3 linked regions of the Homo sapiens genome follow. The protein of the gene in region 1 purifies or fractionates together with the protein of each later gene. This does not show direct contact. Each region holds a gene or a part of one and is shown in the gene's direction. Other genes may lie near its edges.

Region 1 (3,751 bases):
TTGTAGTACCAGTAATAGGAGATGAAATAACTAATATATAATTTTTCATCATGTTAGAGTGCCTTGGAACATAAGTATTATTAATTAGTTTCTTGTCTGAAGAAATTGTATAGTAGTACAGAGCAGTGCAATCTCTTTTTCTGAATTACTGGGATGAACCAATTGAAACTAGATGCCAAGAAACAAAGAAAACCAAAATATATTTCAAAAGTGTACTTATCTCATGTAGTCTTCCACAGAGTAATATGACAGAATTAAGATTTTGTGGGATCCTTAAAGTTGAGATAGTTCATTAATTTTTAAAATTTTTGTATCTATTTGTAACTCCAAGTGTACTAAATAATGCTTGATATGTTATATGTTAAATAAGTAATTTACTATTCTGTTTAGGAAATAATAGAATAAATATAACTGAAACTGGACAGCTGATGGTGAAAGATTTTTTGGAGCCTTTGTCTGGACTTTACACATGTACTCTTTCTTATAAGACTGTTAAAGCAGAAACTCAAGAAGAAAAAACAGTCAAAAAGAGATATGACTTTATGGTCTTTGGTAAGAATTTAGGCACATTTTAACTTATACATTTAGTTTGGATCGTAATTAAGTGTATGGTTTCTTCATTTAATGAAAATGAGTCTGTAATAGGTGACTGTCACCAATTATGACTTACAAAATATTTTGGGATGTATTTGACTAAGCAAACTCTTAAGTTGACATCAAGATAGTTTATCCTAAATAATCTTCTTTCAGCTCCCTACTTGCCTCTATCTAGATATGTAAGCGCATCTACTTTATCACAATTTAGCAGGTAATTTAAAAACTGATCTTTAATTCTATAAAAGCAAGTTAATGATCCTTTCACTGGGTTGTGCTGACAGCAATGACAATTTCTGTGAATTAAGGCCCTCCCCAAAAAGTCTTTCTTTTTCTTGATACTGTTATCTGTATAGCCAACCCACAGAAGCCATTTCTCTTGTTGTACCAAGTAGATAATGTATCAGATGAAAATAACATTTTTCATTAAAGTTAATAGTTTTATGTATTTTTGTGAGGACTAACTGATAAAACGTTATGTTTCTATGCTGACTGCAAGATTGATGGGATTTAGTATTACATAGTATTTGAAAATTGTTTGGTAGAGGAAATTAATGCTAGGTACGATTGTTTTCACTCTCATCTTTCTTTTTTTTTTAAAGCCTATCGGGAACCTGATTATTCATATCAGATGGCTGTACGTTTTACCACAAGGTCTTGTATAGGGAGATACAATGATGTATTCTTTAGAGTGCTGAAGAAAATCTTGGATAGTCTAATTTCTGATTTGTCATGCCATGTCATAGAGCCATCATATAAATGCCATTCTGTTGAAATTCCAGAACATGGCCTCATACATGAGCTATTTATAGCATTTCAAGGTAAAATTTTTAAAATTTCTTTAATTTTGAATTTAGTCCTGAACCATAATAGATTACAAAATTACCATATTAATATAAGATATTTTAAAAGTAATAGGTCTTACATGTTTGTTAAGCACTAAAGTATGTAGTTGACCTTAGCCTGTTTATGGTTTTAAAACTTAACACACTAATTAATTACTTTCAAATATGACATATTGTTGCTTCTTAAAAATCAATATTTTATTAATACAGCCTTTATGCAGCTAATATTTCACTTATAACTTCTTACAGAATTTTAAATTGTATTTTTGAAAACTTAGTAAAAGTGAATAATCAAACCAAATTTATTTCTATTCATTTTAAAGCCTTGTAGTTACTTACATTAGCCCCCAGATGCAGTGAAACCATCAAGTATAAATTATTCAAATTGTGCACCTTGTTTTATTACTAGGATTAGATAGCTGGACTAAACATGTGCCTGCATGCACATGGAATTCAGCACTTGGACCTTTATTGAAATGTTTGGAACTTTTCAGAATCCCTTTGTGAGTCTATCATTTTTTTTCTCTTCAGTTAATCCTTTTGCGCCGGGGTGGAAAGGTGCTTGCAATGGATCTGTTGACTGTGAAGATACCACTAATCATAATATCCTCCAGGTGAGAATTTCATGGTAAGGAAGAAGTATTTGTCTTTTTCTTTTTTTAGAGACAGGGTGTCACCCAGGCTGGAGTGCAGTGGTGCGACCATAGCTCACTGCAGCCTCAAACTCCTGGGCTCAAGTGATCTTCCTCCCTCAGCCAAGGAGGAAGTATTTGAAAATCAATAAAGCTATTTAAAACATTTTTGTAAATACTTCGTTATATTGAAACGTTTCTTTAAAAACCTATTTCTCCATCTTGTGAATATTTATCAATAATAAAATCATTTCTAAGGAGGAAAAATTATTTTTTAAAAAACGAATATAAAGTATTAATAATATTGATTTTTTAAGTATTATTGATTTTTGGTTTCAGTTTTTTAAACTGAGATTATGAGATTCTTAGTTATTTCAAGATGTGATTTTTTTTTCTTTCTCAAAAGAGAGCTGGAGTATCAAGATGTGTTATTTTGGAGTAGCACATCTGTAATATTAGATAGTTCCCAAGGTTAGTATTATGTATTTTATCTATGACAGAAGGATAGATCCCTGGTCTTTGTTCCCCAAATGATGATTAAATAGTGGCTTAAAGAACAACTTCACAAACATGTCACCCTACGTTAAGCCAATGGTGCTTCCAAAATTATATCTATATTGGTCATACTAGTTGCTCTCCCCTCTACCATCCTCAGAGGCAAAGGACATAGTCTTAAAAATCCCTTCACTCTCTGGTCTAGTTCCTGAGCTCATGTCCTTAATTGTTATTGTGCATGGCTTATGAGAAGCACTTAGTTAAAATTAGTTATTATTAAATTCTGTGCTCAAAAACCCAAAATTTACATCATCGGTTTATAATGCTGATTAAAGAAAAGTCTTTTTTTTTTTTTTTTTTTTTGAGACGGAGTCTTGCTCTGTTGCCCAGGCTGGAGTGCAGTGGTGGCCATCTCAGCTCACTGCAACCTCCACCTCCCAGGTTCAAGCAATTCTCCTGCCTCAGCCTCCCAAGTAACTGGGACTAAAGGTGCACACCACCACACCCACACCCGGCTAATTTTTTGTGTTTTTATCAGAGACGGGGTTTCACCATGTTGGCTAGGTTGGTCTCAAACTCCTGACCTCAAGTCATCTGCACATATCTGCCTCCCAAAGTGCTGGGATCACAGGTGTGAGCCACCACGCCCAGCCAAGAAAAGTCTTGCTTTCCATTTTGCTTGGCTCTTTTTCTTTGATGATCATGGAAATTAGATATAATGAACGCCCAATTATCTACATATGGGATAGACATTGCAAATAATTCAAAACAAGTTTTTTAATCTTATTTTTTCTTTTCATTTTATTTTGTTTTGTTTTTGAGATGGAGTCTCATTCTGTCACCCAGGCTGCTGTGCAATCTCAGCTCACTGCAACCTCTGCCTCTGGATTCAAGTGATTCTTGTGCCTCAGCTTCCCGAGTAGCTGGGATTACAGGTGCCTGCCACTACCCCTGGCTAAGTTTTGTATTTTTTATTAGAGACGAGGTTTCACCATGTTGGCCAGGCTAGTCTCGAACTCGTGGCCTCAAGTGATCCGCCCACCTCTGCCTCCCAAAGTGCTGGGATCACAGGCGTGAGCCACCACGCCCAGCCTAATCTTAATTTTAATTTTTATTTATTTATTTTTTCTGAGACGGGGTCTCGCTCTGTCGCCAGGCTGGAGTGCAGTGGCACGATCTCGGCTC
Region 2 (3,751 bases), on another chromosome or scaffold:
TCTCTCTCCTTACCCGTGGCTTTCAGGACAAAGGACTCTGAGAATCCGGGACTTGAGAAGGCAACATAGGGTGGGTGAGAGACTTGGGGAGGAATTTCCATGACCAGACCAAAGTTTGAGGGAGAGCACGGAATACGAAAGAGGACTAGGCAGCCTGGATGTCTGGGGTGGGGGTGGAGAGGTAACCACTCTGAGAGGTGACCACCCCTCAACTCTGCCGTCCTGCCAGGAAATAACAATAAAACCAGCAGCTACAATTAACCGTGACCTTCTATGCACCAGGTACTCTACCCAAGATGATACTCAACCCTAGGAGGTGGGATCCTCTGTCTGTTTTACAAATGAGATGGAGGCTCATGAGAGAAGCCTGAGTCCCCAGACATAGGGATGTGGGAATCCTGGCTTCACATCCCATGGTCCTGGTAGAATGGGATGGGGAATAGACAAGTCACCTATTTAGAGGATATTTGGGATCCTGCTCTGTGGATGTGTGGTTAGGAGGTGGGGTGAGTAGGAAGGAGGCCAGAGCAAGCAACTGGGCCCTAATGAGCCAGGTATCTCCCTAGCCCCCAACCGTTATCCTCTCTGCTTCAGGGCCTTCACGATCTCTTTCTCCACTGTCACTTCTTGTGGGGGGATCTGCGCAAAGGTTGGGAATGGAGACGGGGAAGCCCAACCAGCTGTTTTCCACCTGGCCCTGCCACACCAGAGAGCAAAGGGGCCCTGCAAGTGCAGGCTGGGTGTCAGGAGTCAATCCTGGAGTCCAGGTGACAGCAAAACAGGGGCCAGTTAACCTGCAGACAGAGGTCCAGCTGGCCCACTGGGTCCCCATAACCCCAGCCTTACCCTGAGAAAACTGAGCCCGACATGTGTAAAAAGATATGGCTGGGGGGAAGGCAGGACAAGTTATTTTGTGAGGTTAGAGGGGAAGGGGCCTTGTGAAATCAAGGTCTGGAAAGGGCTGCCCAGGAGAGGAGGCAACTGAGAGTTGAGGCTGACACCTTAGAGGAGAAGATGACCATATGGTTCTCCAAGAACCAGGCATGAATCTGTATGGCACTTGCCAGTTGCTTGGTTTAAGGCTAAAGAGACAGACCCCTTCCCCTCTTCCAGGACTCCCTGTGCCCTCCTCCCCATCCCCAGTTCTTCTCTCCACCTTCTCCTCCCGAAAAGATGCATCCAGCCCTACCCCTCCCCAGTGCCCAGCACATCCCCTCCCCCATCTAGTGATCCCCAGTCCTTAGACCGAGCACACCAGCTCCTGTGAATATCCTGTCTCCCTCACTGGCTCGTATTGACTGGCATCTTAGTCTTCCACCAAACTAGTCAGTTCTTCCCATAGTCTAACCTCCATTCCTTCAGTTACAGCAGCTCGTTTTCAGTATCCTGCCAATAGTGAAATTAGAAACCAACCCTATCTGTAAACAAGCCACCCCACCAAAGGAGTTTCTCTCTCCCTCCCCAGGCATTTTCCCCTTGCAGGCCTTTCACCTACTTTACCATCCCCTAATTTAGCAAGCAGAAAGAGAACTCGATTTCACAAGCAGGATTGGCTCCCCACCATCGTTATTCCTTTTGTCGAGTCCCAGATGGTCCTCTCTCCCCAAGCCCTCCACCCACTCCCACAGGCACTTCGAGAGAAACGCGCCCTCCGGAGACCCTCTGAAGTCTTCAGTTTCCTCTCCCTGGCACTGAGGGAACACAGGACGGGTGTGCAGACTTCGTATTTCCCTCCAAGTTTTTACCTCCGCCTAGTGTTTTCCTTGCAAAGGAAAGTCCCTCTCGAAGTCTAACCTTAATCCCTCCTGCTGCATGCCTAAATCCCCTTTCCATCTTTTCTCTATAATACAACCCCCTTTAAAATCATAAATGCAATCTTCCTCTCGCGTTTAGTCTCCTCTCCTGCAGCGCCCCTCTACTTTCCTAGCCCCAACAACCTGCTCCGGCTAGGAGAAGTTCTTCCTAGCCACTCCCCACCCCAACGCCCTGCCCAAAACTCCGAGGACACTGAGGTATCTGCCTGAGCTGTCCACTACGACGGCTCCCGGGCCACGCCCGGACTCGGCGGCCCGCGGGGCGGTGACCCCCGCAGCCGCCGGTGCAGCCACGACGGGGTTAAGGTTCCGGGCTGGGGGAGGGGGAGGGGGCCGGGAGGGGCGGGTGCGGAGCCAATCGGCGGCGGCAGAGTCCCCGGAGCCGCGAGCTGGGAGCGCTGTGCCGGGAGCCGGGAGCCGAGCGCGCCGGGCTGGGGCCGGGGCCGGAGCGGAGCGGAGAGGGAGCGCGCCCGCCCCAGCCCCGAGTCCCGCCGCCTTCCCTCCCGCCGCAGCGCGGGCCCACCGGCCGCCGCCCCAGCCATGGAGCAAGACAACAGCCCCCGAAAGATCCAGTTCACGGTCCCGCTGCTGGAGCCGCACCTTGACCCCGAGGCGGCGGAGCAGGTGCGGAGCAGGGCGGGGCGGCAGGGCACTCGCCCAGCCAAGGACGAGGGACCCCTGGACTGGTGGGACCCAGGATCCCTGCCTAGTCCTCCCTTAGCAGTGCGCCCTTTTGAGGACGAACGCTCAGTTTGCGGGGGGCGGGGGGGGGTCTTCTGTCCCCTCCCCCACCGTCGGAGCCACATCTCGAATCTGTGCTTCTTTGAGACTGACCGAAGGAAGAGCGCCTCCACTCGATGCCTGGCCCCGCGAGAGTCGCTCTCTTCCTCCCCAGTCCTGGGGGAGGGGGCCTGCTTGAGGACACGACCCCTCCCTCCTTAAACAACCCTGCATCCCCCACCCAGTCAACCCCCACTAGAGTTTCTGAGCTTGGTGGTGGCGCTGAAGGGAATCAGCAGCAGTGCGGGAGGGGCCTGGGGAGGGGTCGGTAATGGAGAGGGAGCCTGGAAGGGTGGGAGTTGGAAGAGGAGAAACAGCTCTCCCTGTCCCCTCCTAACTGGGGGCCACCTTGCTGGGCTCCGAAAGTGATAACAGGAAGGGACTGAGGACCACTGAGAGGGCTGGGGCTCCAGGGAGAGGGGAGAGGGGTGGTCGAGTTGTAGGCTGAGGCTCCCTTCTTCAAGTCTCCGCACATGGCCCTTATTCCCAACTCCTGCCCTTTGGAGTGGGGAGTCCAGGTGGGACTGAGCCAGCAGCACTGGGAGGCCAGAGGTGGAGTCTTTCCAGGGGCTGGGGTCCAAGCTGAACAATATGCAAGGGAGAAGCACTGTGACAGCCTTGGCTCAAGGGGTGGGAGTCCAGGGCCCTGGCCCAGCCTCCTAGCCTGGTCTATTTTTAGCTCAGAGCAGCCTGGCAGAGGGGGCAGTGTATGAGAGTGTGTGAGCAAGTGTATGCCTCGGTGAGAGTGAGCGTATGTGTGGAGAGGGTGGCCACCCGTGGTCCTTACTACTCCTTGTTTGCCAAATATTTGCTTATTTGCCTATTGCTCCATCTCTTTGTAATCTCTGTCCATTTGCCTAGACATTCCCATTCCTAAAGAATATCAATTTCCCACAAGGTCAGTTCTCTGTTTCTCTCAACAAGCTGCCAGGCTCTGGCTGGCCACCCCCAACCTGAAAAAAACTTTGTGACCTCTTGGGATGAGGTGGAGAGAGTGTTTTTTGTCATTTTTGTTGCTCCAGCTGTTTGGTAGAATAAGGTCTGATGTGAAGGGAAGCGGGCAGGGGTACACACTCTCCCTACCACTTCAGCTTCCCAATGTGGAGATAGGGTTAGGTACCTGCGTCTCCGTCCTCTCTCTGGCCTGGGGTGAGCCA
Region 3 (3,751 bases), on another chromosome or scaffold:
CCTCTGCCTCCTGGGTTCAAGCGATTCTCCTGCCTCAGCCCCCTGAGCAGCTGGGATTACAGGCACCTGCCACCACGCCCAGCTAATTTTTGTATTTTTAGTAGAGACAGGGTTTTATCGTGTTGGCCAGGCTGGTCTAGAACTCCTGACCTCAGGTGATCCACCCGCCTCGGCCTCCCAAAGTGCTGGGATTACAGGTGTGAGCCACCGTGCCAGCCATTAATTTTTTTTTTTTTTTTTTGTACAGGCCAGGCTGGTCTCGAACTCCTGGGCTCAAGTGATCCTCCCACCTCGGCCTCCCAAAGGGCTGATGTGAGCCACCACACCCGGCCCTACATCCACTCCTGAGACACAGGACACAATCACAGACACCTCTATACCTTTCCAGTCACAATATCTTTCCAGTCACAATCACACACCCGCTAAGACACACCCAGTCACACAATCTACTCTCCACTGTGATACAGTTACTCCCGTATAGTCACAAGCCCCACACACCAACACCCACAAATGCCTCATATAGTCACAGTCACACACCCACTCAGGGGACACACGCCATCACTGGTACTTTACGGCACCCAGTCACAACTGAACTTTCACTGTGGACATACACACAGTCACACTCACACAAGCAACCCACACAAGCAGTGGCACCCCACTCCCGCATACACAGCACCACACACATACACACAAACACACACACCAAGGGATACAGGAATACACAAGCGGCGTCACCACACAGTCACAGGCACAGGCAATTGCACACGGCCACAGTGTCACACAACCAAAACCACGCACACACCTTGGAGACATGAATCACAACCGCACACCCGCAGTGGTCACACAGTCACAACTGTACTCACACCCCAGGAACAGGGCGAACAGGCCACATATACAACGGGGACACACGCAGTATCACCCCCGGTCACAAGGACCCTGCACCCCGATACTCTCTATCACACATGGTTACACAAAAACCACCAGACACCCTGGAGACAGGCGGTTACACGTGCACAGTTGCAGACACCCACACCCAGCCACACAGCCACAAAGACACATTCAGAACGGCGCATCCGCAGCCAGCTCCCGCCTGCGCGCACAGATTCGAGGCTCCGGACACGCCCCGGCCCCGCCCAGGACTCCCAGACCCCTCACCTTCTGCCTCCCCTGGTCGCGTCCGGGTCCTTGCGGAGCTAACTAGCTCGCCACGACGTCAAGAACGACGTAACGTCAGGCCGCTGTGGGCTCTGGGAATTGTAGTCCAGAGCTAGATCGGCCACGGACAGAATGGCGTTCTCTTATCTCTGAGTCGGGGCCTGGCTCGTTTTGACATTTTTGCGCCCACGAGTCTTCGGAGAGGGCGTCGCCACTCCAGACCTTCCAGCAAGCTTGAAGTCATCTGACGCTAAAGGACTACTTACCTCAAGAGCTCCATCGTCACAGAAGGAGGCGGCCAAGTTCGCGGGGGGAGGGGAGGAGACAGAGAGTCGACCAGTAAAGCCTCAAGGGAAATGTAGTCCAAGGCCTGAGAAGCGACGTTGCTGGTAATAGAAGGTAATTCAGTACCAGCCTGGGCCTGGCCGCGGTGACCGAGGCGGGCCGCGTCGCGGAGACTTCTGGGAGTGCTTCCTCGCTCTCCGAGTGCGCAAGCGCAGCGCACCGAGTGGACATTTTGGTCTTTGTCCGCGGGTCAGTACGGCCCCTGGGTCCACGTGGCGCGAAAGTAGGAGGTGGGATCTGGGCGTCTCGGGTCGGTCGGACCGGGGAGGTTAAAGGGGAGGATTCCTGATCTTTAGGGGCGCGGCGCGAGGGCAGGGAGTGGGTGTAAGAGCTTCTGGCCTACGTGCGGGGCGGAGATGGGGGCCTCTGAGGCGGGTTTGAGCGAGTGTGACCGAGTTTGTCCTCAAAGTTTGACCTGATGTTTGGGATTGTTGAGTGAATGTGAAACTGGGTGCGGGATTGTGTGTGATTGTGCCTAAGAGGGAGATGTAGGAGACCAGCATTGAGGTATAACGTTTGAGCTGCACTTCCCTTGTCGAAAGTGCTGATAATTATAACGGTGCCATCTTCCTGGAGCGTCTTTTTTACTTGAAAATTGAAGGGGTGGAAAAGCTAAGTGGTGAATAATTTTAAAACGAGTTTTTATATAAAAGCATTTCTTTTTAATTGGAGTGGCATGCAAATCACCGTGACTTTTTTTTTTAATTAAACGAGAGTGTTTCGAAGGAACTTTAGTTTCGGGGTGCCTACTTCAGACTATTCAAATCCCCATCTTTGGGGTACTTAAATAGGGCTGTTAAGCAAAGCCCTAGACTAAACAGCATTGTACGCTTTGAGAAGCAATCCCATATAACGGCGCCCAGGATGAGGGAGTCAACGGTTTTAGGTTAGGCACAGTTATCCTCATTTTTTGAAGAAAGCTTAATTGTTGCAGTGTTTATCTATGAGTCTGGACTAAATCCTAGGTGTCTTAATTCCTTAATGAGTCGAGGCGTTCTCAGGTTGTATGGATTTTGTGAAGTAATGGAGAATGCTACTGACGTCTCCAAAGATGCGTTTTCTAAGGAAATCACCCCGCCCCCGCTGTCGTCATTGACATAGTTTTAAATTACAAAAAGTTAAATAAAGTAATTGGGTACCAAGTTAATATCTATAAATAAATAGCCTTCTAATTTACAAATATCAGTTAGAATACATAGTTGAAGAAAACTAATATTTACAATAGCAGTAAAAAGATAAAGTATTGTGGAAGAAACTTAAAGGTTCAGAACTATTAGGAAAGAACTTTAAAATACTACTAAGGGGCATAACAAATGTGAACAAATAAATATACCATGTGACATTAAGAAGTGTGCGCAAACTTAAGTGAATGTATTAATTTACTGTGATCTTGGTCGGGTGCGGTGGCTCATGCCTGTAATCCTAGCACTTTGGGAGGCCGAGATGGGTGGATTACCTGAGATCAGGAGTTCGAGAGGAGCCTGGCCAACATGGTGAAACCCTGTCTCTACTAAAAAAAAATAAAATAAAAAAATACAAAAATTAGCCGGGCGTGGTGGCGGGCGCCTGTAATCTGAGCTACCGCGGAGGCTGAGGCAGGAAAATCGCTTGAACCTGGGAGGCGGAGGTTGCAGTGAGCCCAGATCTCGCCACTGCACTCCAGCCTGGACAAGAGCGAGATTCCGTCTCAATAATAGTAATAATGTGATCCTAATAAAAGTATGGACAGGCTTTTCTCTTTTGGAACTAGGGGAACTGATCCTAGACTTACTATGGAAAGAGACAAGCTGCAAGAGCCAGTACAGACTGAGAAAGAAAAGGCGTTGAGGTGTGGGGAGATGGGGACCCAACACATTTTAAATATAAAGCCTCAGGCCGGGCTTGGTGGCTCACACCTGTGAGCCAAGGCAGGAGGATGGCTAGAGTCCAGGAGTTAGAGACCAGCTTGGGCGACATAGTGAGATCTCCCGTAGTCCTAGCTGCTTGGGAGGCTGAGGTGGGAGGATCACTTGAGCCTAGGAGGTCAAGGCTGCAGTGAGCAGAGATCCTGGCGACAGCATTCCAGCTTGGTGGACAGCCAGTCCCTGTCTTTTTTTTTTTTTTTTTTTTTTTTTGAGATGGAGTCTCTCTCTCTTGCCCAGTCTAGAGTGCAGTGGCCCAATCTCTGCTCCCTGCAACCTCTGCCCCCCAGGTTCAAGCGATTCTCTTGGCTCAGCCTCCCGAGTAGCTGGGATTAGTTGCCTGCCACCAC

Evidence for each region.
Region 2: the proteins of ZPBP2 (region 1) and PPP1R1A purify together in Homo sapiens (affinity purification with mass spectrometry; 3 studies listed by BioGRID and IntAct, with this or other methods). This does not show direct contact.
Region 3: the proteins of ZPBP2 (region 1) and ZNF146 purify together in Homo sapiens (affinity purification with mass spectrometry; 3 studies listed by BioGRID and IntAct, with this or other methods). This does not show direct contact.

What each region holds. Positions count from the first base shown.
Region 1 is NC_000017.11:39,871,074-39,874,824, forward strand, and holds part of ZPBP2 (zona pellucida-binding protein 2 isoform 2 precursor), read left to right. Parts: intron 1-390; coding exon 391-552; intron 553-1,196; coding exon 1,197-1,415; intron 1,416-1,970; coding exon 1,971-2,053; coding exon of another isoform or gene 2,054-2,067; intron 2,068-3,751.
Region 2 is NC_000012.12:54,587,092-54,590,842, reverse strand, and holds the start of PPP1R1A (protein phosphatase 1 regulatory subunit 1A), read left to right. Parts: upstream 1-2,183; 5' UTR 2,184-2,354; coding exon 2,355-2,438; intron 2,439-3,751. UniProt on the Homo sapiens protein: Inhibitor of protein-phosphatase 1. This protein may be important in hormonal control of glycogen metabolism. Hormones that elevate intracellular cAMP increase I-1 activity in many tissues.
Region 3 is NC_000019.10:36,213,467-36,217,217, forward strand, and holds the start of ZNF146 (zinc finger protein OZF), read left to right. Parts: upstream 1-1,639; 5' UTR 1,640-1,730; intron 1,731-3,751.